Linked DNA regions of Homo sapiens: all the other regions are linked to region 3. The links come from fine-mapping of genetic effects on gene expression. A gene starts in region 3. Each other region holds a variant in brackets. All regions are shown on one strand. Distances are between the middles of the regions. Region 1 overlaps COLEC11 (collectin subfamily member 11). Region 2 overlaps COLEC11 (collectin subfamily member 11). Region 3 holds the start of COLEC11 (collectin subfamily member 11).

Region 1 (10,477 bases), 22 kb before region 3:
AAAACAGCAAGAGAGGAAGAAGGAAACAAAGGATCTACCAAGTGACCAGAAAACAATTAACAAAATGGCAATGGCAAATCCTTAACTATCAATAATTACTTTAAATGTAAATAGATTAAATTATCCAATCAAAAGACACGGAGTAGCTTAATAAAAATAAATAAATAAAAAGAAGACCCAACTATATACACTGCCTACAAAAGACACACTTCAGCTTTAAGATCACACATAGACTAAAAATGAAGGGATGGAAAAAGATATTCCACACAAATTGAAACCAAAACAGAATAGGCGTAGCTATATTTATTTTATATCAGACAAAATAGACTATGTCAAAAACTGTAGCCAAGAGTAAAAAAGGGTTTTTATATAATGATAAAAGGTCAATTCATCAAGAAAACATAATCATTACAAATATACACACATTCAACATTGGAGCACCTAAATATGTAAAGCAAATATTAACAGATCTGAAGGGCAAACAGATAGAATACACTAATAGTAGGGGACTTCAATACCTCACTTTCAACAATGGAAAGATCACCCAGACAGAAAATCAGTAAGAAAACATTGTACATAAACTACACTTTAGACCGAATGGAGCTAACAGAGAACATTCCATCCAACAGCAGCAGAAAACACATTCCTCTCCAGTGCACACGGAACATTCTTTGAGATAGCTCATACGTTAGGCCACAAAACAAGTCTTAACAAATTCAAGGAGACTGAAATCATATCAAGCGTCTCTTCTAACCACAACAGGATAAAACTAGGAATCAGCAAGAGGAGGAAAACGAAAATTCACAAATACGAGAAAATTAAACAACACATTCCTGAACAATCCATGAGTCAAAAAAGAAATCAAAAAATATCTTGAAACAAATGAAAATGAAAACACAACATACAAAAACTTATGGGCTACAGCAAAAAGATATTCTAAGAGGAAATTTTATAACAATAAATACCTACATGGAGGGAAAATAAAGATTACAAATAAACAATCTAACTTTACACCATAAGGGACTAGAAAAAAACAAGCAAATGAAGCCCAAAGTTAGCAGAAGTAAGGAAATAACGAAGATCAGAGCAGAAATAATCAAAGAGAGACTAGAAAAGCTGTAGCAAAGCGACAAAACTAAGAGTTGCTTTTTGAAAAGGCAAAAAAAAAAATTGACGAACCTTTAGCTAGACGAAGAAAAAAGAGGTAACTCAAATAAAATCAGAAATGCAATGGAGAAATTACAACTGATACCACAGAAATATGAAGGGTCATAAGAGAGTAATACGAATAATTATACATCAAAAATTTGAATAACCTAGAAGAAATGGATAAATTCCTAGAAACATACAACCCACAAAGACTGAATAATGAAAAAATACTAAATTTGAACAGATCTGTAATGAGACTGATTCTGTAGTCAAAAATCTCCAATCGAAGAAAGGCCCAGGACCTGGTAGCCTCATGCCAAACTTTACCAAAAATTTAAATAGGAATTAATACCAATCCTTCTAAAATCTTACAAAAAATTGAAGAGGAGAGAATACTTCTGAACTAATTTTTAAAAGCCAGCATTACCCTGATACCAAAGCCAGACAAGAACAATACAAGAAAAAAAGATTACAGGCCAATATCCCTGATGAACACAGATGCAAAAATCTTCAACACAATGCTAGCAAACCAAATTTAACAGCACATTAAAAAGATTATACACGGCCGGGAGCGGTGGCTCATGCTTGTAATCCCAGCACTTTGGGAGGCCAAGGCAGGTGGATCACCTGAGGTCAGGATTTCAAGACCAGCCTGGCCAACATGGTGAAACCTCATCTCTACTAAAAATACAAAAATTTGCTGAGCGTGGTGGTGCGTGCCTGTAATCCCAGCTACTTGGGCGGCTGAGGCAGGAGAATCGGTTGAACTCAGGAGGCGGAGGTTGCAGTGAGCCGAGATCATGCCATTGCACTCCAGCCTGGGCAACAGAGCAAGACTCCGTCTCAAAAACAAAAGTATTATACACCATGATCAAGCAAAATTTATGCCTGGGATGGTTCAACATACAGAAATCAATAAATGTGATATGCCACATTAACAGAATGAAGAATAAACATCATATTATCATCAGTAGATGCTGAAAGAACGTTTGACAAAACTCAGTGTTGTTTCATGATAAAAGCTCTCAAGAAAGCACATATACAAAGAATGCACCTCAACACAATAAAGGCCATGTATGAGAAGTCCACAGCTAACATCATACTCACTGGTGAAAAGCTGAAAGCTTTACTCTAAAATCAGAAACAAGGCAAGGATGCCCATTCTCGCCTCTTGTATTCAATATAGTGCTGGAAGTCCTAGCCAGAACAATTAGGCAAGAAAGAAAAAAGGAAAGTGGAAAGGAGAGAAAAGGAAAGGGGAAAGGAAAGAAAAGGAAAGAGAGAAAGAAAGGAAGAGAAAGGGAGAGGGAGGGAGGGAGGCGGGAAAGAAGGAGGGAGGGATCCATCCAAATTGGAAAGGGAGAGGTAAAGCTGGCTCTGTTTGCAGATGGCATAATCTTATATAAATAAAACCCTAAAGACTCCACTAAAAACTGGTTAGCACTAATAAACAAATTCAGTAAAGTTGCAGGATACAAAATCAACACACGAAAATCAGCAGCATTTCTATACACTAACAATGAGCCACCTGAAAAAAATTAAGGAAACAATCTCCTTGACTGTAGCACCAAACAGAATGACATATTTAGGAATAAATTTAACCAAGGAAGTGTTGTGTACCTGTACACTGAGAACTATGAAACATTGAAGACACAAATAAATGGAAAAAATATCTGTTCGTGGATCAAAAGAATTAATATTTCAAAATGTCCATACTACCCAATGCAATCTACAGATTCAGTGCAATCTCTATCAAAATTCCAAAGGCACTTTTCAGAGAAATGGAAAAAAAAATCCTAAAATTCATGTAAAACCATAAAAGGTCATGTATAGCCAAAGCAGCCTTAAGCAAGAAAAACAAAGCTGAAGGCATCACACTTCCTGATTTCAAATTATATTACAGATAGATGGTAATCAAACCAGTATACTTGCTCAAACAAGCACTGGCATAAAAACAGACACATAGACAATAGAGCAGAGAAGAAAGCACAGAAATAAGCCCATGAGTGCATATACAGTCAACTAACCTTCAACAAAGGCACAAAGAATTCACAATGCTATTGGGAAAACTGAATATTCACATGCAAAAAAACAAAACTGAATCCTTGTCTTATACCATACATAAAAATCAGCTCAAAATAGAAGACTTAAATGTAATACCTGAAATCACAGAACTCCTAAAAGAAAATGTAAGGGAAAAGTTCCTTGACATTGGTCTTGGCAATGATTTTTTGGGATATGACCCCAAAAGCACATGCAACAAAAGCAAAAATAAATAAGTGGTACTAACCTATCCAACTAACAAGTTTCTGCATAGCAAAGAAAGCAATCAACAAAACAGAAAGGTACCTATGGAATGGAAGACAGTATTTGCAAACCATATATCTGATAAGAGGTTAATATCCAAAATATGTAAGGAATTCATACAACTCAATAGCCGAAAAACAAATAACCCAATTTAAAAATGGGCAAAGAATCTGAATAGATATTTTTCTAAGAAGACATACAAATGTCCAACAGGTTTATGGAAAGGTGGTCAACATCATCAATTATCAAGAAAATAGAAACTAAAGCCACAATGAGACATTACCTCACACCTGTTAGGATGGCTGGTATCAAAAAGTCAAAAGAGATTAAGCATTGGAGAAGATGTGGAGAAAGGCGAGCCCTTAGACATTGCTGGTGGGAATGGAAAACAGTACAGAGGCTCCTTGAAAAAATCAAAAGCGACAACTCAGTGGTGGCCACTGCGCAGACCAGACTTCTCTCGTTCTCGCACGCCTCGCTCCGCTTTTCCTCCACAACCATGTCTGACAAACCCGATATGGCTGAGATCGAGAAATTCGATAAGTCGAAACTGAAGAAGACAGAGACTCAAGAGAAAAATCCACTGCCTTCCAAAGAAACGACTGAACAGGAGAAGCAAGCAGGCAAATCGTAGTGAGGCGTGCGCCGCCAATATGCACTGTATATTCCACAAGCATTGCCTTCTTATTTTACTTCTTTTAGCTGTTTAGCTTTGTAAGATGCAAAGAGATTGGATCAAGTTTAAATGACTGTGCTGCCCCTTTCACATCAAAGAACTACGGACAACGAAGGCCGCGCCTGTCTCTCCCATCTGTCTGGCTGGCTGGCAGGGAAGGAAAGAACTTGCATGTTGGTGAAGGAAGAGGTGGGGTGGGATGACAGTGAAATCTAGAATAAAACCAAGCTGGCCCAAGGTGTCCTGCAGGCTGTAATGCAGTTTAATCAGAGAGCCATTTTTTTCTTTTTGTCAAATGATTTTAATTATTGGAATGCACAATTTTTTAAATATGCAAATAAAAAGTTTAAAAACTTAAAAAAAAAAAAGAAAAGAAAAAATCAAAAGCAGAACTACCACATGATCCAACAATGTCACTACTGGGTCCATAGCCAAAGGAATGAAATCGGATCTTGAAGAGATCCCTACAGTTTCATGCTGACTGCAGCATTATTCACAACAGCCATCACATAAAAACAACCTACGCGTCTGTTGACCAATCAGTGGATAAAGAAAACATGGCACATATATAACGGAATATTATTCAGTCTTGAAATATAAGAAAATCCCAGCATTTGTGACCTGGATGAACCTGGAGGGCATTACGCTAAGTGAAATAAGAATGTTCCAGTCCTCTCCCTCTCCCCACAGTCTCCCTCTCCCTCTCCCCACGGTCTCCCTCTCCCTCTCCCCACGGTCTCCCTCTCCCTCTCTTTCCACGATCTCCCTCTTGATGCTGAGCCGAAGCTGGACTGTACTGCTGCCATCTCGGCTCACTGCAACCTCCCTGCCTGGTTCTCCTGCCTCAGCCTGCAGAGTGCCTGGGATTGCAGGCGTGCGCCGCCATGCCTGACTGGTTTTCGTATTTTTTTGGTGGAGACGGGGTTTCGCTGTGTTGGCCGGGCTGGTCTCCAGCTCCTAACCGGGAGTGATCTGCCAGCCTCGGCCTCCCGAGGTGCCCGGATTGCAGACGGAGTCTCGTTCACTCAGTGCTCAATGTTGCCCAGGCTGGAGT[G/A]CAGTGGCGTGATCTCGGCTTGCTACAACCTCCACCTCCCAGCCGCCTGCCTTGGCCTCCCAAAGTGCCGAGATTGCAGCCTCTGCCCGGCCGCCACCCCGTCTGGGAAGTGAGGAGTGTCTCTGCCTGGCCGCCCATAGTCTCGGATGTGAGGAGCCCCTCTGCCCGGCTGCCCAGTCTGGGAAGTGAGGAGCGCCTCTTCCCGGCCGCCATCCTGTCTGGGAAGTGAGGAGCGTCTCTGCCCGGCCGCCCATCGTCTGAGATGTGGGGAGCGCCTCTGCCCCGCCGCCCTGTCTGGGATGTGAGGAGCGCCTCTGCCCAGCCACGACCCCGTGTGGTATCTGAGGAGTGTCTCTGCCCGACCGCCACCCCGTCTGGGAGGTGAGGAGCGTCTCTGCCCGGCCGCCCCGCCTCAGAGGTGAGGAGCCCCTCCGCCGGGCAGCCGCCCCGTCTGAGAAGTGAGGAGCCCCTCCACCCAGCAGCCGCCCCGTCTGGGAAGTGAGGAGCATCTCCACCCGGCAGCCCCCCCGTCCGGGAGGGAGGTGGGGGGCAGCCCCCGCCCGGCCAGCCGCCGCGTCCGGGAGGGAGGTGGGGGGCAGCCCCTGCCCGGCCAGCCGCCGCGTCCGGGAGGGAGGTGGGGGGCAGCCCCTGCCTGGCCAGCCGCCCCATCTGGGAGGTGGGGGGAGCCTCTGCCCGGCCACCGCCCTGTCCGCGAGGTGGGGGGCGCCTCTGCCCAGCCGCCCCCTTCTGGGAAGTGAGGAGCCCCTCTGCCCGGCCGCCACCCCGTCTGGGAGGTGTACCCCACAGCTCATTGAGAATGGGCCATGATGACGATGGCGGTTTTGTCAAATAGAAAAGGGGGAAATGTGGGGAAAGGATAGAGAAATCAGATTCTTGCTGTGTCTGTGTAGAAAGAAGTAGACATGGGAGACTCCATTTTGTTCTGTACTAAGAAAAATTCTTCTGCCTTGGGATGCTGTTAATCTTTGACCTTACCCCCAACCCCCTGCTCTCTGAAACATGTGCTGTGTCCACTCAGGGTTAAATGGATTAAGGGCGGTGCAAGATGTGCTTTGTTAAACAGATGCTTGAAGGCAGCATGCTCGTTAAGAGTCATCACCACTCCCTAATCTCAAGTACCCAGGGACACAAACACTGCGGATGGCCGCAGGGTCCTCTGCCTAGGAAAACCAGAGACCCTTGTTCACTTGTTTGTCTGCTGACCTTCCCTCCACTGTTGTCCTATGACCCTGCCAAATCCCCCTCTGCGAGAAATACCCAAGAGTGATCAATAAATACTAAAAATAAATAAATAAATAAATAAAATCCCTTTAAAAAAAAAAGAAAGAAAATATTTCTCAGTGGATTCCTGAGAAAGGGTGCATATGAGGTACATTGTTGTGAACTGAAATACATGAAAATATTTTATTCTGCTCTCAGCCTTGATGGATAGTTTAGCTGGGTGTAGAATTCTTGAATGGAAATAAGTTTCCCTCAGGATTTTAAAGGTACTGTTCTTTCTTCAACTGCTAATATTGGGAAGACTGATGTTATTCGGATTCCTAATTCTTTGTATGTGATATTTAGTGTCTGGAAAATTTTGGATTTTGTTTTTATCTTTGTGTTCTGAAATTTCAAAGTCAGTTGTCTTGGTATGAAACTTTTTTTCGTTTACTTTGCCAGGTTTCTGGTAGTTCTGTTCAATCTAGATACTCATGTCCTTTCATTATAAGAAATTTTCTTCTACAACTTGTGCAACTTTAGGAGTTTTACTCTGAGCACCCTTATTGGTCATCCTGTCCTTCTGTATTGCCTATAAAAAATATCTGTGTTGAAGATTTTTTAAAGCTTTACTTAGAATTGTTCCTCTCTAAACTTAATAAATGGAAAGCTGATTTAAAAAAAAGAAAAAAAAAGAATGTTCCAGCTCTTGCTTAGGATGAGGGGTACGGGCGAGGGCAATGGTCAAAACTGATTGCACGGTAATCTCAAAATGAGAATGACCATAAATTATACCTCAAAAACGTTTCAAAAAACAGCGTATGGGCTTAAATATATATTTAATTATCTTTGTGTTGTTATAATAATTTTTTTTAATTGGAAACAACTTAACTCTCCAATGTTAAAAGATTGGTTGGGGGGTTGGCTAACTGTAGTATATGTTCTCATAGAATGATGTGTACATACTGAGAAAGCATTTCTAGAGACAATCTTTAATGACTTGGAAAAAATGTATTACTTGAGGCCAGGAGTTCGAGACCAGCCTGGCCAACATGGTGAAACCTAGTCTCTACTAAAAATACCCCCCAAAAAAAAATTAGCTGGGTGTGATAGCACATGCCAGCTACTCAACAGGTTGAGGCAGGAGAATAGCTTGAACCTGGGAGGAGAAGGTTACAGTGAGCCAAGACTGTGCCACTGCACTCCAGCCTGGGCAACAGAGCAAGACTCAGTCTCAAAAAAAAAAAAAAGAAAGAAAGAAAGAAAAAGAAAAAACACTTAAAAAAATTTTAAGCAGTAACAAGGAGTATATAAAGATAATAGCCACCATATATTTAACCCCTGCCATGCACTGTGCAGCTACTTTACACATGATACATTTCCTTTACACGTATGATCTAGCTCCCATGAGCCTCGGCACAGTCCCACGAGGCAGGCAGAATCACACGACTTTACGAAGGAGGAGACAGACGCAAAGTGATGAGGGTCCTATCTGTGTACTCTGCCACGCCGCCTTCATAACGACACTGATTCACTTAGCGCTCACAAATGATCTGGAAGCTGTTATTCCCGTCTTACAGATGAGGCTTAAAGGGGCCAGGAGCCTCTGCTGAGTTCCAGGACACACTTTCTTTCCTAGAGCCCCACAGGTCAGCACAAGGAGCAGTGCTGAAGGACCACTCTCCCCTCCCTGCTCCCGACCCAAGTCCCATGCCGTCTGCCTCCCTGGGACCCAGAGGGCAGGGCCTGTCCTCTCTGGAACCACCACCCCCACCTCCCCACCCGGCTCTAGCAGGAGCGGTGCCTCCATCCTCAGAGCTCTGAGGGCCGGCCCAGGGCTGCAGGTACCTTTTTCTCCCGTGGGGCCGACTCTTCCAGGCCGTCCGGGGGCGCCTTTGTCTCCCTTCTCTCCCGCATCCCCTGTGGAAGAAGTCACATCCATTTAGCAGCTCGTCTGGCCAGCACAGCGTCTCAGAGTGATTTGTGGAGGAAGAACAGTTAGAAGCGTTCTCCCCGGGTCCCTGCAGGTGGCCAAGCCCCTTCTCTCCCTACCTCCCTCCCCGCCTGCAGCCCAGCCGCTACTCTGGGTGCCCCTGATTCTGCTTTTAGGGCTATTTGTCTCCCTGCCCTACCTTCTCTCTTAGAAAGGGCCTGTGTTTCTCTCACCAGTTACCCCTCTTGGCGGGCTCCTAGTCTGTCCCTGGGTGCACAGTGCCGCGTCTAAACGCCGGCTCTCCCCAACCCTAACACCAATGAGAAGGGCGGCAGCGTCTCCAGGCGCCCCCATGGGAAGCGTCACCCCGACCTCTCCCTGAGCTTCATCTGCTTGGTACTCAGGGAAGGATGAACTATGTCAGCATCCCACTGGCCCCATCAGTGTGAGCCCCCCAGGGCACAGGCTCCTGCTCAGCCAGGGCCTCCACCACGGGGGCTGCCTGTGACCAGGTGGGCACGTCCACCCACTTCCAAGGCTCAGCAGGTGCAGGAGACAGAGGGTGAATCACTGGTGGAGACACCCTACAAGGCACAGTTCAGAGATGTGCGCAGTGAGGCCAGGGGCCTCAGGAAGGCCTGTGGACACCAACACCTCCACTCCAGTCTTCTCCCCCCACTCTAATCCACACCAAAATGACTGTCCTGAAACAAATGGAATTCTATTATGTCTCTAGATTCAGCTATAAATGACGTGCAGTACTTGAGCCTCTCCTCAGTGTGGTCTCTACATCGGACCCCGGTCTTTCCCTACTCTGTGCCCTCTGCCCAGCCTGCCTGGTCAGCCGGCTCCTGTCCAGGGTCCGCCTTCTCACCTGGTTCTCCGGGAGGCTCTTCCGGATTCTCTCAACAGGGCCACTCTGCTGGCTGGGACTCGGCTCTGTAGTCATTTTTATAAGGCCGTATTTCTTACCTGTTGCACTATCCCTCCTCTGAATGGTTGCAGACAGGGAGTGTGTGTGCATGTGTGTGCATGTGTGCATGCGTGTGCGTGGGTGCGTGGGTGCATGTGTGTGCGTGTGTCCGCATGTGCATAGGTGTGCACGTGTATGTGTGCGCGTGTGTGCGCTGATATGCTACAAGTTCACCTTCCCTCTCTGCACAATTGTGCCAGCGTTCACGTAAACTTTACTTCTCTATAACTCTCCATTTGCACCTTTGTGGGCAGCCAGCCATCCAGGTGCCGAGGCAAGAGACCGAGGGCACGAGCTGTTCCAGTATGATAAAATATACAAAACAACCCTATATATAGAGAGAGCATATAGAGTATAACTCTTGTTGTTTTATATATTTTATCATACTGGACCAGCTCGTGCCCTCGGTCTCTTGCCTCGGCACCTGGACGGCTTGCCGCCCACACACGTTGTGGCCCACACACCTTGTCTTGGAGAGAGGCTCAGTTGAGATTACAGATCCCTCCACAAAATCCCCAAAGCTGATTATCTGGCCTCACGGAGGGGACTTTCCATTTAAATCCAAGTAACAAAGAGAAAAGCACAGCGATGGTGGCAGGCCCATCCCCACATCACCCCCGTGCCACAGCCCCAGCCCCGCAGGGCCACCTACTGAAAAGCCTGTGGGCTGCCCCTGGGCTGACCCACGATCAACACCCACATGCTGCTCTGAGGCTCCAAGTAGTTCTCAAGTTTGCTTTCTTATCTTGTAAGAAGAAAAGAGAAGTATTGACAGTTTAGCAAGAAATATCCACTAACAAGATAAACTCAGCATTAAGAATCCCCAGAGGTTTCAGGGGCACCAGCATCGTGCAGAAGAAAGAACAGAGAAGACGGAACAGTGGAGCAGCCGGACGCTGACTGTGCAATCGGTGAATGGAGGTCCTCATAACATGGGAGAGGCCAGTCCGGGAACAACAGCACACTGCAGCGGAAAGAGCCGAGCAGAGACGCTGTGCGGGAGCCACTCCGCAGAAAGGCGAGTCCCCGGTGACCCAGGATGAAGAGGCCTCGTGGAGCCAGCGGTGAGGAGGAAGCATTGTTCACAGGGCAGCACTAATAAGAAATGCAGGCTTTGTTTGTTTGTTTTGAAGTTACGAAGTTGAGAGTTGAAGGAAAAACTCA
Region 2 (10,477 bases), 33 kb before region 3:
CACGCTGATTTCAGCTTCACAACGTCCCTAGCAGCACCATCTGTTAGGGCTGAATTACATCCTCCAAAATTCTGACGATGGAGCCCTAACCCCAGTGTGAGTCCTACTAGAAGCAGGGTCTTTAAAGAGGTCACACAGGTGGGCCCTGGTCCAACAGGACTGTGGCTTTACCGAAGAGAAAGAGAGGCCGGGATTGTGCATGCATGGAGGAAAGGCCGCGTGAGACGCAGCAGGAAGACACCGCCTGTAAGCCCCGGACAGCAGCCTCAGGAGCAGCAGCCCTGCCGGCACCCGGATCCCTGACTTCCAGCCTCCACAGCCGGGAGGAAATCATCTCTGTCCTGGAAGCTGCCCGCTGTGTGGTATTGAGAGACAGAGACACTGCCCTCTGCTCCAGAAGAGGAGTTCAGAGAGTCAGGTGACCACCACAGGTCATACAGTGAGCCAGGAAAGAACACAGTGCCCCGTGATTCCGAGCACAGCCTCTGCCATCAGACAGGCCTGGCCCCAAATCTCAGTGCTCCACCCATGAAACCCTGCACAAGTTACAGCCCTCTGTAAGCCTCAGTTTCCCTGTCTGTCAAGTGGCACCTCAGGGCATTCCGTGCCTCGGGTCACAGCGAGCATCAGGAGCAGGAGCGCGAGCGCACACTGATGGCGTGGATTTCACTCAGACCAAGGCCTCCTGACTCCACGTCCAGGGCTCCAAACCCTGCACCCCCACTGTGGGTAGGCCCCAGCCTGTGAGACTTCCACCCCGGGTACAGCCAAAGCCACCCTCCACGGGCCAGGAACTGCGGGAAGCCTGCATTTCTAAGAGCCAGGGGCTGGACACATGGCGCAGGATTGTGTTCCTGTGGGAGGACAAGCAGTGCCCTACTCCCAAGCCCAGGAGGCAGGAGACAGAGACCAAGAGACCAGAGTGTGCAAAGCAGCAGGCAGAGCCCTCCGAGCAGAGCCCCCTCCGAGCAGAGTCCCCTCCGAGTAGGGGCCCCCTCCGAGCAGAGCCCCCTCCGAGCAGGGGCCCCTCCGAGCCCTCTCGCCTGTGTCAGCCGTGACCAAGCATACCCGGCTGGTGGGGAGTTAGGGTGGCTACAGGTGGCCCAAACCCTCCCGTCCCTCCTTATTCCCTTCTGCCCTAAACCCATAGCTTGGACCACCAGACCCCTTTCCACGGTCCCCTCAGCCTTGCAGGGAGGCCTTTGGGGGAAGGGCCAAGCACTGGGCACAGCTGGGCCTGGGGGTGGAGAAACACTCCCTCCACCGGATGAGCCAGTGCCAACTTTGTCTAAACACCCTGATAGTAGGCAGATGTTATTGTTCTTTGGCCCTCCACAAAGAGAACAAGCAAAATGCCTTGAGCATCCAAAAAACCTGTTGCCATGACCTTCGCTCTCGGCCAGTCTGCTTTGCTTTACTGTTAAAATTCTTTGAAGAATGCCTAAGCATCTTTTTTTTTAATTTTTTCTTTTTTTTTTGATACAGAGTCTTGCTCTGTCGTGCAGGCTGGAGTGCAGTAGTGCAATCTTGGCTCACTGCAACCTCTGCCTCCCAGGTTCAAGTGATTCTCCTGCCTCAGTCTCCTGAGTAGTTGGGATTACAGGCGTGCACCACCATGTCTGGCTAATTTTTGTATTTTTAGTAGAGATGGGGTTTCACCATGTTAGCCAGGCTGGTCTCGAACTCCTGACCACCCACCTCGGCCTCCCAAAGTGCTGAGATTATGGGCCTGTATTGTATTGCATTTCTTCAAAATTGTAACAGAAGACGAAACGTGGCTTTACCAGTACAATCTTAATGACAAAACAGTCAAAGCAATGGCTACCAAGAGTTGGAAGTGGTCCAGGAAAGCAAAGCAGACTGGCCGAGAGTGAAGGTCACGGCAACAGGCTTTTCGGATGCTCAAGGCATTTTGCTTGTTCTCTTTGTGGAGGACCAAAGAAGAATAACATGTACCTACTATCAGAGGGTTTTGAGAAAGTTGGCCAAAGCCTTAGCAGAAAAATGCCCAGGAAGCTTCACCAGAGCCCTTCTCACCCCAACAATGCTCCTGCTCATTCTCCTTATAAAACAAGGACAATTTTGCAAGAGTTTCTATTGGAAATCATTAAGCATCCAACTTTCCCAGTTTGGCTCTTTCTGACTTCTTGTTTCCTCATCTTAAAAAATCTGTAAAGGGCACTCATTTTTCTTCAGTAAACAATGTAAAAAAGACCACATGGGAATTCCTGGGAATTTCACCATGAGGAACCCTCAGTTCTTTAGGGATGGACTAAATGGCTGGTGTAATTACTTACAAAAGTGTCTTGAACTTCATGGTGCTTATATTGAGAAATAAAGTTTATATTTGTATTTTTATTTTTTAATTCCACTTTTCCACAAACTTTTTGAAGTCCCCTCACACATTATATACAGACATATGCACATATACTATACACACATACATGCATGTACACATACACATACGTACTACCCTGATATGCATACACATACATATGCACACATACATACTATACACATATGCATGCACAGACATCTATATGCATACATACACACATGCACATGCATATACACATAGAGATGTGCATTCACCTCCACATACATACATGTGCATGCAAACATACACATATTAACAGATATGCAATATGCAAACACGTAACATATGCACACATAAAAACACACATACATACACATATGCATGATGCATGCACACATTCATGCATTTATGTATAAATACAACCACACATAGCATGTAACTGCACATCGTATATATGTACATATAAACATGCCCATATACACATACATAAAACTTACAAACCTACATACGTGGATACATGTGTACACAAACATACATACATGAATACAAACATATACATACATATGTAAGAGCACTTGGAATTCAGTTTCCTCAGTGATTTTTAACAGCTGGGCTTTCTCTGGACCCGTGGCCTGGCTTTGTTATCTCAAAACAGGGCATCCAGCAGCACATACATAGACAAAGGCATACTCACATGACATACCCATGCATACTACAGGAGCACACATACACATACATACTATTCACACACACGCTATATGCACATACACACAAATGCTCATATGCACATACACACAGGTACATATACATATGCACACATGCATGCACATATATACATATAGGTATGTATCCATACATACAACTATACATGCACATACATCTATGTGCACGTGTGTGCATGAGTGCATGTACATAAGCCTACTTTTATCCTCACACAGCTCAAGCTTGTACAGTTGGTCAGCACCTAGGCTTAAACTGAGAACCCCAGAAGCACCCAGGAGACCCTCACTACACCCCAACCTCCACATACCAGCCACACACACTGGGACCTATTGGTGTGAGCTGTTGTTTCTGACAGAAATATTCTATTTTGGGGTGTTTGGAGGAAGAAGAAAAGGTGAGAACCGTTGAAATCCACTGAGATTGTCAACACATTCTCTACTTCATACCACAACCTTTTCTGTAGCTGACTTATTTCAACTTGAAGACTTCTCTTGGAAACTAACCCTTGGCCGGACAGTAGTGTGGTTACAGATCCAGAGGTTCTCTAAGGACAGCAGATGAGAACAAGAGCCCTAACGCCTTTTTCCCTCTCCCAAGGCCTCGTGCACCTCCAAGTGACAGAAAGCTTTTTGCAAGAGGCAAGCAACGCCCCCTCCCGCTGGCTGCGTGCGACAACAGGAATGCAGCACCTGATGCCCCTGGATCCCTTCCCTCTCTGCCATAGGAGCTTCTGGCTGTGGCACCCGGCACACTGGGCACGAACGCCACAGCCCATCCCACATCTCATCACCATTGTGAGCAGTGCTGCGCCTCCCATCTGTCCTCTGGACACGCATGAGGATTGAGGGCAGCTCAAAGCAGGTGTGGAGTTCTTATTAATTTTAATGAACACTTCACACAGTCCTCTGAAGTGGAGAAGAGGCAAAAAGAGCATTTGAAATTCAGCTTCCTCGGTGATTTTTAACAGCTGGGCTTTCTCTGGGCCATGGCCTGGCTTTTTATCTCAGAATAGGCCATCCAACCGCACCACCTCCTCGAATGGGGGGTGGGGGGTCTCACTTTCCCAACAGGACACTCCCTCAAAGCCCCAGCGCACACCCAGCCAGCCTGTTCAGGGCAGCCCCCACTGCAGCCAGGTCCCCATGTGCAGAGCATGCACTTTGCGGAAGCAGAGGCATCTGGACCCCCACCAATGGGGACAGCCCAGGCTGGCAGCAGCAGCACCTGGGTGCTGTTAAGACCAGTGCAGGGTCTCAGGCCGCCCTCCTGGGCCAGCAGCTGCATTTAAATGAGAGCCCCTGGAGAAACCTGAAGCAGAGCCCCACCTCCATAGATAGGCAGAGAACACAGCCCCCGCCCAGCATGGCCGGAAGCCTCGTCCCACAGACCAGCTCTCTAGAACCCTGCGGGGCAGCCGCTTCACCTGGGGAAGGGAGGATGACACAGATGGGGGGCCCTTGGCCATAGACTGGGATCACCCACAGATTGCAGAGGTATTTGAAGATATGAAACCTCAGGATATTTTTCCAACAGTGGATGGAGGGCCTTCCAAACGTCAGGTCTCATGCTAGGACCTGAAGACGCAAGGATGAGAGCGGATCTGCAGACCCCAGGCCCACTCATGGCAGCAACGCCCTGTGAAGGCTGTGATTTTGATGTCAGAAGTTGAAAACAATGGTTTGGAGTGGCCACAGGCTGGGCAACAGCAGGGCTGGCATGGGAGCAGGGCTGTCACACCCAGGTCCCGCTCTTCCCAGGGATGCTCCTCCCCTTCAGGAGCCCCTTCAAGAAGCACTGGGACAGGTGCTGAGACCCACTTTGTCATCACGCCCAGTGTTATGCCCAGCATCATCGTGTGCAGCATTGTGCCCAGCATCGTCGTGCCCAGATTCACGCTGTTGTCATGCCCAGCATCGTCATACCTAGATCTACCATCATCATGCCCAGCATCGTCATACCTAGATCCACCGTCATCGTGCCCAGCGTCACTGTGCTCAGCGTCATCGTGCCCAGAGTCATTATGCCCAGATCCACCCCATCATCGTGTCCCATCTTCATGCCCAGCATCGTTGTGCCCAGAGCCATCATGCCCAGATGCAGACCGTCATCATGCCCAGTGTCATGCCCAGCATCATCATGCCCCGATCTACCGTTATTATGCCCAGATCCACCCCATCGTCGTGCTCATCGTGCCCTCCATCATCATGCCCAGTGTCATTGTGCCCAGATCCACCCCATCATGCTCATCGTTGTGCCCATCGTCGTGCCCAGCGTTGTGCCCAGCATCACCATGCCATCATCTTGCCCAGCATCATCATGCCCAGATCCACCCCATCGTCATGCCCCCCGTCATCATGCCCCCCATCATCGTGCCCAGTGTCGTCATGCACAGCATCGTGACCAGCGTCATCATGCCCAGGCGAAGTTGAGTTGCAGCCCCCAGTTTGCCCAGGACTGCAGTGGTTCCCAGGACCCTAGAAACCAGGAAGTCTTGGCCCCCAAGTTCCCGCAGAGGTCACTGTTTTTCTCCAGGTGAGTCTCCACAGCATAATGCCATGGAAGCCACAGATGTTCGTGACCGGTCATCAGGGAACTGCCACTGTGCCCCCGCTGCAACGAGCTAGAAAGCTATCCACTAGCACCCAGCTAGCAAGCCCACGGGCAGAAGAGCCAGTGGGCCAGGGGAGTTGGCAGGGCTGTGTCCCACTGGAAAGTGAGACTCCAGGGAGGGTGTGGAGGGTGGTGGCGGCTGAGGTCCTGGTTCCCAGCCCATCTGCGCCCCCTGGGGCCCGGGCAC[C/T]GCCTACCACACAGGCAGAGCGCCCAGGGTGTCCTAGGTCTCAGGGAGGAGATTCATCCCAGGTTGTGTATAAAAAGTCCTAAGTTTATTCCATTCTCTCTTTGACCTAATGTCCTTGTAAACATATTCCATTCTCTCTTTGACCTAATGTCCTTGAGAATAAACATTATCCAGAACAGAGCACTTACAGCTGACGGAAACAGCCACGATTATCAGAAAGAATGTCAGTTGGTTATTGCAGAGGCCGGAAGTCATGCTCATTCCCTAGTGAGTTCCCATGAACAAAAGCACCAGGGCTCAGACTTTCTTCTGTGCAAACGGAGAATAATAACAGCAACCACCAGGCCACCAGGCACCAGGCAACTGCCGCATCCAAGACATTGTGCGTCTATCCTTCCATTTAACCCTTCTGGGAGTCATGGGAGGTAGATCCCCACCCCCCACCCCCCATTTTACAGGTACAGAAAAAGGGGGCTTGGGAAGACGAAGCTGATTCCAGAAGCTGACATAACTGACAGGTGGTGGAGCCACGATACAGACAGGCCCAGCGAGCCCAGGACTGTCTGGTTCCACGTCTGTGGTCTCTGCACTGCTCAGCTGAGGCTGGGACCGCATTGTGCCTAACAATATTCCTCCCTCCCAGCAAACCACGTCCATCTAGAAATGGGGCTTCTGCTCCAGTTCTGTCCAAGCCATGTGGCCATGGGAAGAGTGGTTGCCTATTCTCTGCATCTCAGGGTCCAACTTAAGTGTGAAGGTGGGATTTCCAGATCCATTACCCTGTGATCCCATTTCTACAAAGGACGAGGTGCACTTCCTTTTGGAGATGTCAGAAGCTGTCACGACTGGCTGTGACTGCTGGAAAAAGTAAATACAATGTTATGACTATCCCTGCCTGACAACTCAGATAATAGAGATGTTAAATAACTTTGCAAAGTCTGCCAGGTATGGCGGCTCATGCCTATAATCCCGGCACTTTGGGAGGCCAAGGTAGGCGGATCTCTTGAGGTCAGGAGTTCAAGACCAGTGTGGCCAATGTGGTGAAACCCCGTCTCCACTAAAAATACAAAAATTAGCCGGGCGTGGTGGTGGGCGCCTGTAATCCCAGATACTCAGGAGGCTGAGGCAGGAGAATCACTTGAACCCGGGAGGCAGAGGTTGTAGTGAGCCAAGATTATGCCACTGTACTCCAGCCTTGACAACAGAGCGAGAGTGAGACTCTGTCTCAAAAAAAAAAAAAAAAAAAGTAAAAAAGAAGAAAAGAAACTTTCCAAACTCATGGGTCCAAGCTGAGGCACAGAGTAGACCCCTGAGTGCTAAACGCCCCTCCCCTAAGCTGACTCCCTGGGATGCCAAATGCCACATCCCTTTATGGACTCCTAGCCCTCCCTGTCTCCAGATTTCAGAAACCCTGAATTACGAGTAGCCTCCCGAGTGCCTTCCCTAACCCCCGCCCTGGGCTGGGTCCATGGCCCCCCACCCACCACAAGGCAGCCAAGAACGCTGTCTCAGCAGTCGCTGTCCTGCACATCCTGCCTCAGGCTCACCCTCCATCCGTGCCCACCCCTCAGCAGGGACCTGAGGCCTGCTTGAGCATGGAAGCCTGACCTACACCTGAACATCAGTGGGGACAGGCCTCGGAGCCTGAAAAAGCCTGCTGCCACTTCTAAGTGGGAGAAGGAAGGAAGAAAGGAGGGAGGGAGAAGGGAATTCCTCAGAGGTTTTAATAGAGAATCCTTGCCGCCTTGGATCAGCAAACCATTGTGTTTGTGGATCCTTTGATTAAGATTCTTTAAGAGGTAGAAATGAAAAGAGTCTATCAGACTTTAACCCCATATCTCTGGGGTAGTCAATGTATGTTTAATGACCCTCTGTAAATCTATCAATCTAATACTTAGGAATAACTACTATATCAGGGACTTGGAACCACTTACTCGCAGGATGGCAGAGTGTGATCCACAAATCCCTACCCTTGAGGAATGTATAATCTAATTAGGAAGACAAGACATGCACACATGGGTGATGTTAGGAGGATGGCAGAAGAGGAGCTTTCTACCATAGTCCCCCCAAAGAAGCTTCCATGTTGACAACTCCCCATGAACAAAAGTGTCTTTGTAGGAGTCTGGAAGTCCAGTGGAGAAGTTCCAGCACACTGTTAGAGAAAAAAATCCAAGAATAGATGCACTGATGAGGGTAAGAACAGTTTCACTTTACCCGTGTGACCGTTTCCCACAACTGTAAGCTGAGCAACTGTGAGCTGAGCAACACAGCTCAGTGCCCAGGGAAACCCCCTTGGCCCATGTTTTTTCCCACTGGAGTAAGTGAAAGTGTAGTAAGTGAGCTTCCAGCTCCCCCAGCCATGCAGGATGCTGCCCAAAAAAAGTCTGCTTCTTTCTTGTCTCACCTCCAATACTGAGGTGACTGACATGGAGGAGAAGTTGGGAGAGACTGGGAGCTAGGAAGAAAGGCTATGGACCCTAATAATTGCTCTGCAGATTTTATTAGGAAGCCCCCCAACAAGCTGATGGAGACGCCTTTCCTGTGAACCATCCCAACTGGACCACGGGCACCCAAATGCTCACATGCTTCACCCAACACTCTGCCAGCTCCCCAAAGGCACCCCCACAGATGGCAAGTGCCAGCATCTCACACAGACAGATAGCTTGACTGTGTGGGATGGGGAGGGAGAAGGCACAAGAACTTGAGCATTTCAGAGCACTGCCCTAGGGGAAACTAATGAGAGGCTAGTAGCACCTAGACTGCCTTTGTGGGATCAAGAAAAGGCATATACTCTTTAAAAATTCACCCCTCTCCAAGAGAAGCAAAAGGTGTGGAGCAGGTGCATCCACAGAAATGGTCTGAGAGAGCCTCAGAATCCCTAGCCAGGCTGTTTTGTAAAGAAATCTCTCTCCCAAAAAAAGTCCATAAAGACTAGAGGAGGTGACTGCTTTTGCAAATGAGAAAACAGCAATGCAAGACTTCAAGGAATATAAAGTATCAAGGAAACATGACATTACCAAAGGAACACAATAATACTCTAGTAAACCAATCCCAAAGAAATGGAGATCTACAAATTGCCTAACAAAGAACTCAAAATAATCATTTTAAGGAAGCTCAATGAGATACAAGAGAACATAGACACACAACTCAACAAAATCAGAAAAACAATACATTAAAAATGAGGAATTCAATGAAGAGATAGAGATTTTTTTTTAAAAAAAGAACCAAACAGAAACTCTAAAGCTGAAGAACAGAATGAATAAAATTTAAAATACAGCAGACAGCATCAAGAGCAGAATTGATCAAACAAAAGAAAAGAAAGAATATGTGAGCTTGATGACAGGTCATTTAAAAATATTCAATCAGAGAAGAGAAAAGAAAAAAGGCATTAAAAGAAATTAAGAAAGCCTGTGAGATCTAAAGGACACCATCAAGAAAGCTAACATTCACATTATGGAAGTTGTATTAGGAGAATATAGAGAGAAGCTAATAGAAAGCTTATTTAAAGAATTAATGCCTAAAAAACTTTCCAAACTTGGGAGTGATGTGGACATCAAGGTACATGAAGCTTAAAGTCTCCAAATAGGTTCAACCCACAGAAAACTTCACCAAGATACATTATAATCAAACTACCATAAATCAAAGACGAGAAGAGAATTTTGAAAGCAGAAAGAGAAAAGAAACTCATCACATCCAAGAGAACCCTCATAAGGCTATCAGCAGACTTCTCAGCAGAAAACTTGCAGGCCAGGAGAAAGTGGGATCATATATTCAAAGTACTGAAAGAAAAAAACTGGCAATAAGATTATGTACTCACAAAGCCATCCTTCAAAAATAAAGGAAACATTAAGAGTCTCCCAGATACACAAAAGCTAAAGAAGTTCCCACTAGACTTCCCTTACAAGAAATGTAAAGGAAAGTTCTTCAAGCTGAAACAAAAGGATGCTAATTAGTAACATGAAAACATTTAAAAGTGTAGAGATAACTGATAAAACTATATACTTGCCTTAGTCTGTTTTCTGTTGCCATTACTGAATATCTGTGACTGGGTAATTTATAAAGAAAAGAAATTCTTTTTTACAGTTCTAGAGGCTGGGAAATCCAAGGTCAAGAGGCCACATCTGATGAGAACTCTCCACAGAGTCTTGAGGTAGCACAGGGCATCACACAGTAAGGAGGCCCACGAGAGAGGCCACCTGGCTTTTATAATAGTCCCACTCTCATGATAACTAACCCACTCCTGTAATAACCCATTAATCTATTAACTCATAAATGGATCAATCCATTCATAATGTCAGAGAACTCATGATCCAGTCACCTCCTAAAGGCCCACTCTCTCAATACTATTACATTAAAGATCAAGTTTCAACGTGAGTTTTGGAGGGGGCAAACATTCAAATGATAGCAATAGTCAAATTCAGAATACTCTGATGGTGTAATGGTTATGTGTAAATCATATATAACTCTAGTATAAAGGTTAAAAGACAAAGATATTAAAATAACTATAGCCACAATAATTTGTTGTTGTTGTTTGTTTGTTTTTAGAGACAGGGTTTCACTCTCTCACCCAGGCTGGAGTGCAGTGACATCATCATAGCTCACTGCAGCCTCCAGATCCTGGGCTCAAACAATCCTCCTGC
Region 3 (10,393 bases):
GCCCAGAGACCTCCCGGGACTTGGCATCCTGAGGGCAGTGGGTGAGGGACAGCTACAAATCCACTGAACCACTTACCAGCACCTTGGCCACACCACATGCCGTTTGCAAGCCCCTCCCCTTCTCTTAATATGGAGATAGGCTATTTGAAGGGATTGCAGCGGTAATTAATGCGTGTGGCACCGTGACCCAGTGTGGCACATAGCAAATGCTCACCAAATGGCAGCTCCTGATCCTACTGTGATCACATGCATGGGCTCCCAGTCCAGGGAAAGGGCTAGAAGCCAGGGTTCCTCATCTGAGAATGCCTGTCCCCCGCACAGTGCCTCTGCGTCAGTCAATTCTCCCGCAGAATGGGTACAGGGAAACCCGTTTCCATTCAGTGCCGTCCTGTGGTGTGGGTCATCGCGCACCAGATGAGGACCTGGCTTCTTCCTGCAGAGCCCCTTACAGAAATGACTTTGTAAAGGACAGGGGTACAGAACGTCCACTGGGTTGGAGGAAAATAACTCCCATACACTGCACAGAGATCAGCACCATCACGCACTCGTCACAGATGAGGAAGCCAAAGAAAAGAAAAATTAAGAACGCTTCCCAGCATTGCGTAACCAGTGTGTGGTGAGGGTGGGACTGAAATCCAGGGCTTCCCAGCACTGTTGGCTGTTTCCTCTTTCTGCCCGACTACCCTCTCCCCATGCATCAAAGGAAGGGCTCACCTTCCTCCTTCAGTCACGATGTAAGGGATTTTTAAAAATAGGTTTTTGATGGAGAGAACAAGGAGCCAATATACGTTGTATACCAAATGTGGACACATATCTGATTTAATTCCCAAAACAACCTTGTACCTTATTACAGTTCCTCACTCTAAAGACAATGCAATATGGAAAGTTGAACAATCGGCCCCAACTCCACCACCAGGCCACGCAGCTGGGCACTCCGCCTGCAGCCTCCTCTCCACACCCCGCACCCACGGCCCGCCTCCAGCCTCCTCTCCACACCCCTCACCCACGGTCCGCCTCCAGCCTCCTCTCCACACCCCTCACCCGCTGCCTGTGCCCACACCCTTCTCCCCTGTGCTCACGCGGATATTAGAACAATAAGGGCAACCGAAAAGCGGAAACCCAGGACCCCACCAGCTGACTTCACTCCTCCCACCTTCCTTGTTCGCTGCCAGGCTTGGGTCCACATGCAAGTGATCTGTGCAAGCTACAGCTTCGTAAAGGTCTCTGGGCACGCAGAAGCCTGCAGTTTAGCAGGCACCAAACTGAGTGAACAAGTGAATGAGTAAATAAAGGAACAAACAACAGAACGAAAGTTCACAATTGCATCGCAAATAGAGCCTTCTGCTCTTCTCCTCGTGGTGTTTCCGTGTTTCCAAATCTTTATTATATCTAATGTCTACACAGTATTTCCAGGGCAGGCAGTCTGCAGACGTGGGTTACTGCCCTGCTGTCATTGTCCTGAAATTCCTAATAATGTTGAAATGGGCCAAGCACAGTGGCTCACGTTTGTAATCCCACCACTTTGGGAGGCCGAGGTGGGTGGATCACCTGAGGTCAGGAGTTCGAGACCAGCCTGGCCAACATGGTGAAACCCTGTCTCTACTAAAAATACAAAAATTAGCTGGGCATGGTGGCGGGTGCCTGGAATTCCAGTGACTCGGGAGGCTGAGGCAGGAGAATCGCTTGAACCCGGGAGGTGGAGGTTGCAGTGAGTCGAGATCACACCACTGCCCTCTAGCCTGAGTGATAAGAGTGAGACTCAGTCTCAAAAAAATGAAATAAATAAAATAAAATAAAAATAAAAAATACAAAAATAATGTCAAAACAAGGGGCACCACAAGGTTTGTAGCCAGACGTGCTGGTCCACTGGGCTCATAACCGTAGTCTCCCCGGCTCCTGCCTCAGCAGCAGTATTTTGGCTCCTTGTGGTATGTGGCTTCTGAAAGCAATAGTAAACTCTTCCTCCCCACCCACTCAGTACGCAAGTCGAACCTCACTTCTCAGTGTTTGCTGGATGCAAACTGGGTTTAGTTTTTTTTTTTTTTAATGTCTCAGGAATCAAAGGCTGACATGGGAATTTCCCCTCTAGCTAGAAGTGATTCTGTTCAGGTATAACCAGGTGTTCAGCAAGGCTTTTACTGCCCTCACTCCGCAGATGTCCCAGGAGTGGCTTCAACAAAGATCAGGCTCCGTCTCCCAAGAAAAGGGGTGAGTAGTGAGCAGAGAAACCCAGAGCAGCCCAGGCAGGATTTCTCGTGCCTTCACTCACACTCATCTGCTGATCCCAGAGCAGCCCAGGCGGGATTTCTCGTGCCTTCACTCCATTCATCCGCTGACCCCGGAGCAGCCCAGGTGGGATTTCTCATGCCTTCACTCCATTCATTCACTGACACCAGAGCAGCCCAGGTGGGATTTCTCGTGCCTTCACTCACACTCATCTGCTGATCCCGGAGCAGCCCAGGCTGGGATTTCTCGTGCCTTCACTCCATTCATTCACTGACCCCGGAGCAGCCCAGGCCGGGATTTCTTGTGCCTTCACTCCATTCATTCACTGACCCCGGAGCAGCACAGGCTGGGATTTCTTGTGCCTTCCCTCACTTCACTCATCCACTGATCCCCGGAACAGCCCAGGCTGGGATTTCTCATGCCTTCACTCGCTCCACTCATTCACTGACCCCGCTGCCCATTCACAGAGTTTCTGTCCACTTTCCTGCGAGGGGCCCCAGCTAGGCCTATGGGCACAAAGGAGGCACAGGCCCTGCAGCGGGGCGCTCTCAGACGCACAGCAGGAACCAGGGCAGGTAGGCACAGGGTGAGGGCACCCAGGCGCCCGAAGGAGTCTCTGCTTCCCAGAGGTCTCGCCCTCTGACTGCCTTCTTAGAAGAGGAATTCCATTTTGTAAACGGAGAAGCCACAGCTACCCCCAGGACCTCTTTAAGAACAACATCCTTATCTCCCAGCCAGGGCCCAAGACGCTCAGGGCCCTCCCATCAATGGAAGGGGCAGACTTGACAAGCAGGGGAGAGGGGGTTAAACGTGGAATCCTGAGAGGAAATACATGTTATGAATGAAATAAACAATGGGGCCAGGCCCAGTGGCTCATGCCTATAATCCTAGCATTTTGGGAGGCCAAGGTGGGCAGATCACCTGGTTAGGAGTTCGAGAGCAGCCTGGCCAACATGGTGAAACCCCCCTCTCCACTAAAAAGTACAAAAATTAGCCAGGTGCCATGATGCACACCTGTAATCCCAGCTACTCAGGAAGCTGAGGCAGGATAATCGCTTGAACCTGGGAGGCGGAGGTTGCAGTGAGCCAAGACGGTGCCATTGCACTCCAGCCTGGGTGACAGAGCCAGAGTCCATCTCAAAAAAAAAAAAAAAAATGAAATAGACAATGAGAAAAAATCATGGCTTCAGTTGCCAAACATGCTATTCTACTTTTTCATTAAGTATCTACAGCAAGGCCCAGCATCTTACAGGCACCACAAATACCTCCTAAGAACCACATCCCTGAAGCATGAGGAGGTTCCTCTCACTGGGGACTGCCCCAGCCCCACCGCGGTGTTTCCCTCCCTACAGTGACAGAGCACCTTCTGGGGCAGCCTGGATTCCACCCACAACAGCACACGCTCCTCTTAGCTTCTTACCAAGAGCACAGAGTAAGAAGGCACCTATCCTCTCTTATCTTCCCCCAGCGGTCAGCACATTACCGGTGTGCTCTCTTCTACGGTACATGGATTTTTCAAAATTGTAAACAAAATCGAATAGCTGTGAAAGATTGGGGCAGTGCTCTGCCTACCACAGGCAAAGTGCTTCCCATCAAACCAAAATTCCAGCTATGCACATGAGATGGCTTTAAACGTTCATCTTTAAATTGAGAACGACCACATCACCTCAGCTCTAAAAAGACCGCCAGTTCCTAGCGCAAGGCATCCAGGTAGGAGGCAGCGGCCCTAGGAAACTTTCCTCCTTTCCAATTTTGGAGACAAGATGACCCCACTTGGTTTTAGATGACCCCATCTGAACTCAAAGTCTTTCCCTGGAAAGTTGCCAAAGCAAGGCCCACCTTTCCCCCACCTCTCTGATCCCCGTTCCTGAGCCCAACACAGAGCCACTGGTCCCTGGGGGCAGTCGTGGCTGCTGTCCGCCTGGCCCGTCAGACGCTGCTCAGGCTCAGGAACAATCGTCAGGTTGTGAGACCAGGTACTGCACTGCGGTTTGGAATTAGCGAAGACTGTTTAGCCCCCTGGGCCTTGGGCTGTTTGAAATCTGCCACCCAAGAGGGTGACTCCATCATCCAGCACCTCTCATGGGTCGGATCCCATCTCATCAATAGGCTCCACGAATTTCCGCCATGAACTAATCAAACTTTGGAACTCTGGTGCCAGATTTATTGAGACTCAATCTTTTGCCTGGATCTAGGGACAGATTCCCATCCTCCTCGCTCAGCAGGAGCCCACCTCGCGCCCAGTTTGGAAGCCTGCCTGCCTCCCCTCTGCACTGTCATAGCCCCGTGAAACCCTCAGCTGCAGCCCCGGGCAGAGTCTCCTACCTGAGCACGCGCTAGGCGAACGGGGCGTCCTGCCCGTCGCTGGCCCGCGAGGACACTGCCCCCAGGCGCCTCATGGCTGCTATTTAGAGAGGCGGCCGCAGTCCCAGGCGCAGGGAGAAGCCTCGGCCCGGGCCATCAGACAGCCCAGCAAATCAGGCCGCCCGGCCGCAGCGTTATCTCGGGGAGCTTCCTGTCTGCGCTGCGTCCACCGTCCTGCCTGGGGAGTGTGGGAACGCCTGGAACTCCCTGAGGCCGGCTTTGGGGTGGGGGGCAGGACCCTCCTGGAGATGCCCCTGCTAACTCTCCAACCCGAACATCCCAATTTTGTTTCTTTTTTGGCTTTCTCTTCTTTCTTTTCGTTTTTTGAAAAAATAAGCATGACTACTGTGGAAATTCAAAAGAGCATAAAGAGGAGGGACGCTCATCACCTGGCACCAATCAGACAGAAACGAGGGCAGCTGACTGATCTCCTTTCCTTTGTTCATATGGGATTTCGCTTCAAAAGTCAGCAAGAGCTTGACCACGGCCTGTGGAGACCTGGCCACACGTGAGTCCGGAAACTCACTCTACGCATTTAAGTTTCATTTAAAGGCAAGTTTCATTTAATGCCAGAAACAAATGTTAGTCAGGGGCTGGACAGATCCAGCTTCTATGCAGCCCGAATCTTGCATGTTTTGGGGGATAGCGGAACCTTCTTTAAGAAAAAGATACATATAAAATTACAATCATAAGAAGCTAGGTTCAAAGGTGAATATTTATTTAGACTGAGAAATCATAAAATAAAACTGTAAAAACACAAATTCCACACACATAATAAAATTAAGGAAAAATAATGGATTCTTTATTTAAAACGTATTATTGAAGTTATACATAAATTTGACAACTTAGACAAAATGAACCACTTCTTGAAAACACGAACTACAACATGCCCAGCATGAAACAGATAATTCAACAGCCCTATGCCAAGGAAGGGAATTGAACTTGCAATTTAAACGCTCCCCAGAAAGACATTTCAGGGCCAGATGGTTTCACAGGAGGGTCTACAAAACGTTTAAAGAAAAATTAACACCAATTCTACACATCCTCTTCCAGAAAATAGAAGAGGAGGGAATATTTACCAATTCATTTTATAAAGTTGATTATTACCCTGATACCAAAACCAGACAAAGACAGAACAAAAACACTATAGACCAATAACCCTCATGAATATAGATGAGAAAATCCTTAATAAAATATTAACAGACAGAATTCAGCAATATAGAAAAAGATTTATCAACTATGACCAAATGGGGTTTCATCCAGGAATGTGAGGCTATGTCAATATTCAAAGCTCCTTTGATAAAAACCCATTAACAAGCTAACAAAGAAAATCAAATGAATATCTCAATTTATATAGAAACAGCATTTGGCATAAACCAACACCTTTCATGATAAAAACTCTCAGAAAAATAGGTGCAGGGGACCTTCCTCAACTTGATAAAGAGCATCTGTCAAAGGCAAAGCCACAGCTAACATCATACTTCATGGGCAAAAATGGAATGTTTCCTTCCTGAGATCAAGACAAGGCAAGGGTGTCCACTCTTACCTCTTACTCAATGCAGTGCTAAAGTTCTAGGCACACCAGCAGGGCCCGAAAAGGAAATAAACAGCATGTAGATTCGAAAAATAAAATAACTCTGTCCCTTGTTGCAGATGACATGGTTGTCTACTTAGAAAATCCCAGAGTCTACAAAAGAGCTCCTGGAAACTATTAAATCAGTGTGACAGGTGACAGGATACAAGGCAAACATTTAAAAAACCAAGTAGGCCAGGCGTGGTGGCTCACACCTGTAATCCCAGCACTTCGGGAGGCCAAGGTGGGAGGATCACCTGAGGTCAGGAGTTAGAGACCAGCCTGGCCAACAAGGCAAAACCCCATCTCTACTAAAAATACAAAAATCAGCCAGGCATGGTGGTACATGCCTGCAATCCCAGCTACTCGGGAGGCTGACGCAGGAGAATCACTTGACTCCGGGAGGCAGAGGGTGCAGTGAGTTGAGGTTGTGCCATTGCACTCCAGCCTGGGTGACAGAGCGAGACTCTGTCTCAAAAAAATAATAAACAATGAAAAACCAAGCAGATTTCTATAAAATAACAATGAACTCATAGACACCAAAATTCAAAATAATATCATTTACAATTGCTTTAAAAAAGGAATACTTAGGTGTAAATCTAACAAAACATATATAGAACTTACATGCTGAAAACTACAAAATGCTGCTGAAAACCTCAAAAAAGATCTGAATAAACAGAGAAACACGTCGTCTTCATAGATTAGGAGACTCACCCCAAGCACAGTGGCTCATGCCTGTAATCCCAGCATTTTGCAGGGCTGAAGTGGGAGGATCACTTGAGTCCAAGAGTTCAAGACCAGCTTGGGCAACATGGTGAAACCCTGTCTCTAACAAAAACAATACAAAAATTAGCCGGGCATAGTAGAATGGTCCCAGCTACTCAGGAGGCTGAGGTGGAAGGATCACTTGAGCCCGGGAGGTGGATGTTGCAGTTAGCTGAGATCGCACCACTGCACCCCAGCCTGGGTGACAGAGTGGGACCCTGTTTCAAAAATAATAAAATGAAAATTAAAAAGTATAGATTGGGAGACTCAACAGAGTAAAAATGTTGATTCTCCCCCAAGTTAATATACAGTACAAGCTTAACACAATTTCTATCAAAATCATAACAATAATTTTTGTAGATATAGACACGGCTATTCTAAAGTGTATATGAAAAGAGAAAGGAACTAGAATAGCTAAAACAATTTTGAAAAAGAATAAAATAGGAGGAATCAGCTCTCCGTCTCCGTCTCCGTCTCCGTCTCCGTCCCCGTCCCCGTCCCCGTCCCCGTCCCCGTCCCCGTCCCCGTCTCCGTCTCCCTCCATGGTCTCCTTCCACGGTCTCCCTCTGATGCCGAGCCAAGGCTGGACGGTGCTGCTGCCATCTCGGCTCACTGCAGCCTCCCTGCCTGATTCTCCTGCCTCAGCCTGCTGAGTGCCTGCGATTGCAGGCGCACGCCGCCACGCCTCACTGGTTTTCGTTTTTTTTTTTGGTGGAGACGGGGTTTTGCTGTGTTGGCCGGGCTGGTCTCCAGCTCCTAGCCGCGAGTGATCCGCCAGCCTCGGCCTCCCGGGGTGCCGGGATTGCGGACGGAGTCTCGTTCACTCAGTGCTCAGTGGTGCCCAGGCTGGAGTGCAGTGGCGTGATCTCGGCTCGCTACAGCCTCCACCTCCCAGCCGCCTGCCTTGGCCCCCCAAAGTGCCGAGATTGCAGCCTCTGCCCAGCCGCCACCCCGTCTGGGAAGTGAGGAGCGTCTCTGCTTGGCCACCCATCGTCTGGGATATGAGGAGCCTCTCTGCCTGGCTGCCCAGTCTGGAAAGTGAGGAGCGTCTCTGCCCGGCCGCCATCCCATCTAGGAAGCGAGGAGCGCCTCTTCCCCGCCGCCTTCCCATCTAGGAAGTGAGGAGCGTCTCTGCCCGGCCGCCCATCGTCTGAGATGTGGGGAGCACCTCTGCCCCGCCGCCCTGTCTGGGATGTGAGGAGCGCCTCTGCTGGCCGCAACCCTATCTGGGAGGTGAGGAGCGTCTCTGCCCGGCCGCCCCGTCTGAGAAGTGAGGAAACCCTCTGCCTGGCAACCGCCCCGTCTGAGAAGTGAGGAGCCCCTCCGTCCGGCAGCCACCCCGTCTGGGAAGTGAGGAGCGTCTCCGCCCGGCAGCCACCCCGTCCGGGAGGGAGGTGGGGGGGGTCAGCCCCCCGCCCGGCCAGCCGCCCCATCCGGGAGGTGAGGGGCTCCTCTGCCCGGCCGCCCCTACTGGGAAGTGAGGAGCCCCTCTGCCTGGCCAGTCGCCCCGTCCAGGAGGGAGGTGGGGGGGTCAGCCCCCCGCCCGGCCAGCCGCCCAGTCCGGGAGGTGAGGGGCGCCTCTGCCCGGCCGCCCCTACTGGGAAGTGAGGAGCCCCTCTGCCCGGCCAGCCGCCCCGTCCGGGAGGGGGGAGGGGGGGTCAGCCCCCTGCCCGGCCAGCCGCCCCGTCCGGGAGGGAGGTGGGGGGGTCAGCCCCCCGCCCGGCCGGCCGCCCCGTCCGGGAGGTGAGGGGCGCCTCTGCCCCGCCGCCCCTACTGGGAAGTGAGGACCCCTCTGCCCAGCCAGCCGCCCCGTCCGGGAGGGAGGTGGGGGGGTCAGCCCCCCGCCCGGCCAGCCGCCCAGTCCGGGAGGGAGGTGGGGGGATCAGCCCCCCGCCCGGCCAGCCGCCCCGTCCGGGAGGGAGGTGGGGGGGTCAGCCCCCCGCCCGGCCAGCCGCCCAGTCCGGGAGGGAGGTGGGGGGATCAGCCCCCCGCTCGGCCAGCCGCCCCGTCCGGGAGGGAGGTGGGGGGGTCAGCCCCCCGCCTGGCCAGCCGCCCCATCCGGGAGGGAGGTGGGGGGTCAGCCCCCCACCTGGCCAGCCGCCCCGTCCGGGAGGGAGGTGGGGGGGGTCAGCCCCCCGCCTGGCCAGCCGCCCCGTCCGGGAGGTGAGGGGCGCCTCTGCCCGGCCGCCCCTACTGGGAAGTGAGGAGCCCCTCTGCCCGGCCAGCCGCCCCGTCCGGGAGGGAGGTGGGGGGGTCAGCCCCCCGCCCGGCCAGCCGCCCCGTCCGGGAGGGAGGTGGGGGGGGTCAGCCCCCCGCCCGACCAGCCGCCCCGTCCGGGAGGGAGGTGGGGGGATCAGCCCCCCGCCTGGCCAGCCGCCCCGTCCGGGAGGTGAGGGGCGCCTCTGCCCGGCCGCCCCTACTGGGAAGTGAGGAACCCCTCTGCCCTGCTTGAAGGCAGCATGCTCGTTAAGAGTCATCACCACTCCCTAATCTTAAGTACCCAGGGACACAAACACTGCGGAAGGCCGCAGGGTCCTCTGCCTAGGAAAACCAGAGACCTTTGTTCACTTGTTTATCTGCTGACCTTCCCTCCACTATTGTCCTATGACCCTGCCAAATCCCCCTCTGCGAGAAACACCCAAGAATGATCAATAAAAAATAAAAATAAAAAATAAAAAATAAAAAAAAAAAAGAAAAAAAAAAAAAAAGAAAAAAAAAAAAGAATAAAATAGGAGGAATCAATCTACCCAATTCTAAGACATTATACAATGGAACAGAACAGAGAACCCGAAACTAGATCTACACCGATACACTCAACTGCTTTCTCACAAAAGTACAAAAGCGATTCAGTGGAGGGAAGACAGCATGTGCCATGAACGGTGTGGAGCAACAGGACGTCCATAGGCAAAAAAGATGAACCCCAATATAAGCCCCACACCTCATACAAAAACTATCTCAAAATAGATCATGGGCTTCAATGTAAAATGTAAACTTACAAAACTTTTAGAAAAAATGGAAGAAAAATCTTCAGGATCTAAGGCTAGGCAAATCATTCTTTGATATTCTAACATCAAAGTACAATCTATAAGAGCAATAACTGATCAATGGAACTTCACCAAAATTAAAACCTTTTGCTCTGCAGAAGACCCCGTGAAGAAAATGCAAAGACAAGCTACAGGATGGGAGGAAGCATCTGTCAGCCACAAATCCAGCAAAGGAGAGTGTCGGGAATATAGAAAGAACTCTCCGAACTTAACAGGAAAATAACAAACTGCCCAAGTAGCAAATGGGCAAAAACATGAAGAGACATTTCACTAAAGAGGATATACAGTCGGCAAATAAGCACATGAAAAGATGTTCAACGCCATTAGCCATTAGAGAAATGCAAACAAAACCCACAGTGAACTATCACGACTTGTCTATCAAGGTGGCTAAAACAAAATCCCAACACCAAATGCTGGCATG

The links. PIP is the estimated chance that this variant, and not a neighbour inherited with it, causes the effect. A credible set is the group of variants that fine-mapping cannot tell apart.
Region 1: its variant is the best candidate, but not a certain one, in a credible set for the expression of COLEC11 in gastroesophageal junction (GTEx, PIP 0.60).
Region 2: its variant is the best candidate, but not a certain one, in a credible set for the expression of COLEC11 in ovary (GTEx, PIP 0.71).

The regions. Positions count from the first base shown.
Region 1 is chr2:3,611,161-3,621,637 of GRCh38, reverse strand. It overlaps COLEC11 (collectin subfamily member 11), which reads right to left. Exons shown (of 7, transcript NM_024027.5): 3 at 8,256-8,327. It also overlaps the pseudogene TMSB4XP2. Among named protein-coding and RNA genes, the nearest start is that of COLEC11, 21 kb to the right of the region's middle. RefSeq lists an enhancer at 6,059-6,563. The variant G/A (reference allele first, on the strand shown) is at 5,187.
Region 2 is chr2:3,622,232-3,632,708 of GRCh38, reverse strand. The region is part of intron 3 of COLEC11 (collectin subfamily member 11); the gene reads right to left. Among named protein-coding and RNA genes, the nearest start is that of ALLC, 31 kb to the left of the region's middle. RefSeq lists enhancers at 4,471-5,182, 7,816-8,055, 8,086-8,305. The variant C/T (reference allele first, on the strand shown) is at 5,838.
Region 3 is chr2:3,589,327-3,599,719 of GRCh38, reverse strand. It overlaps COLEC11 (collectin subfamily member 11), which reads right to left and starts at 4,608. Exons shown (of 7, transcript NM_024027.5): 1 at 4,552-4,608.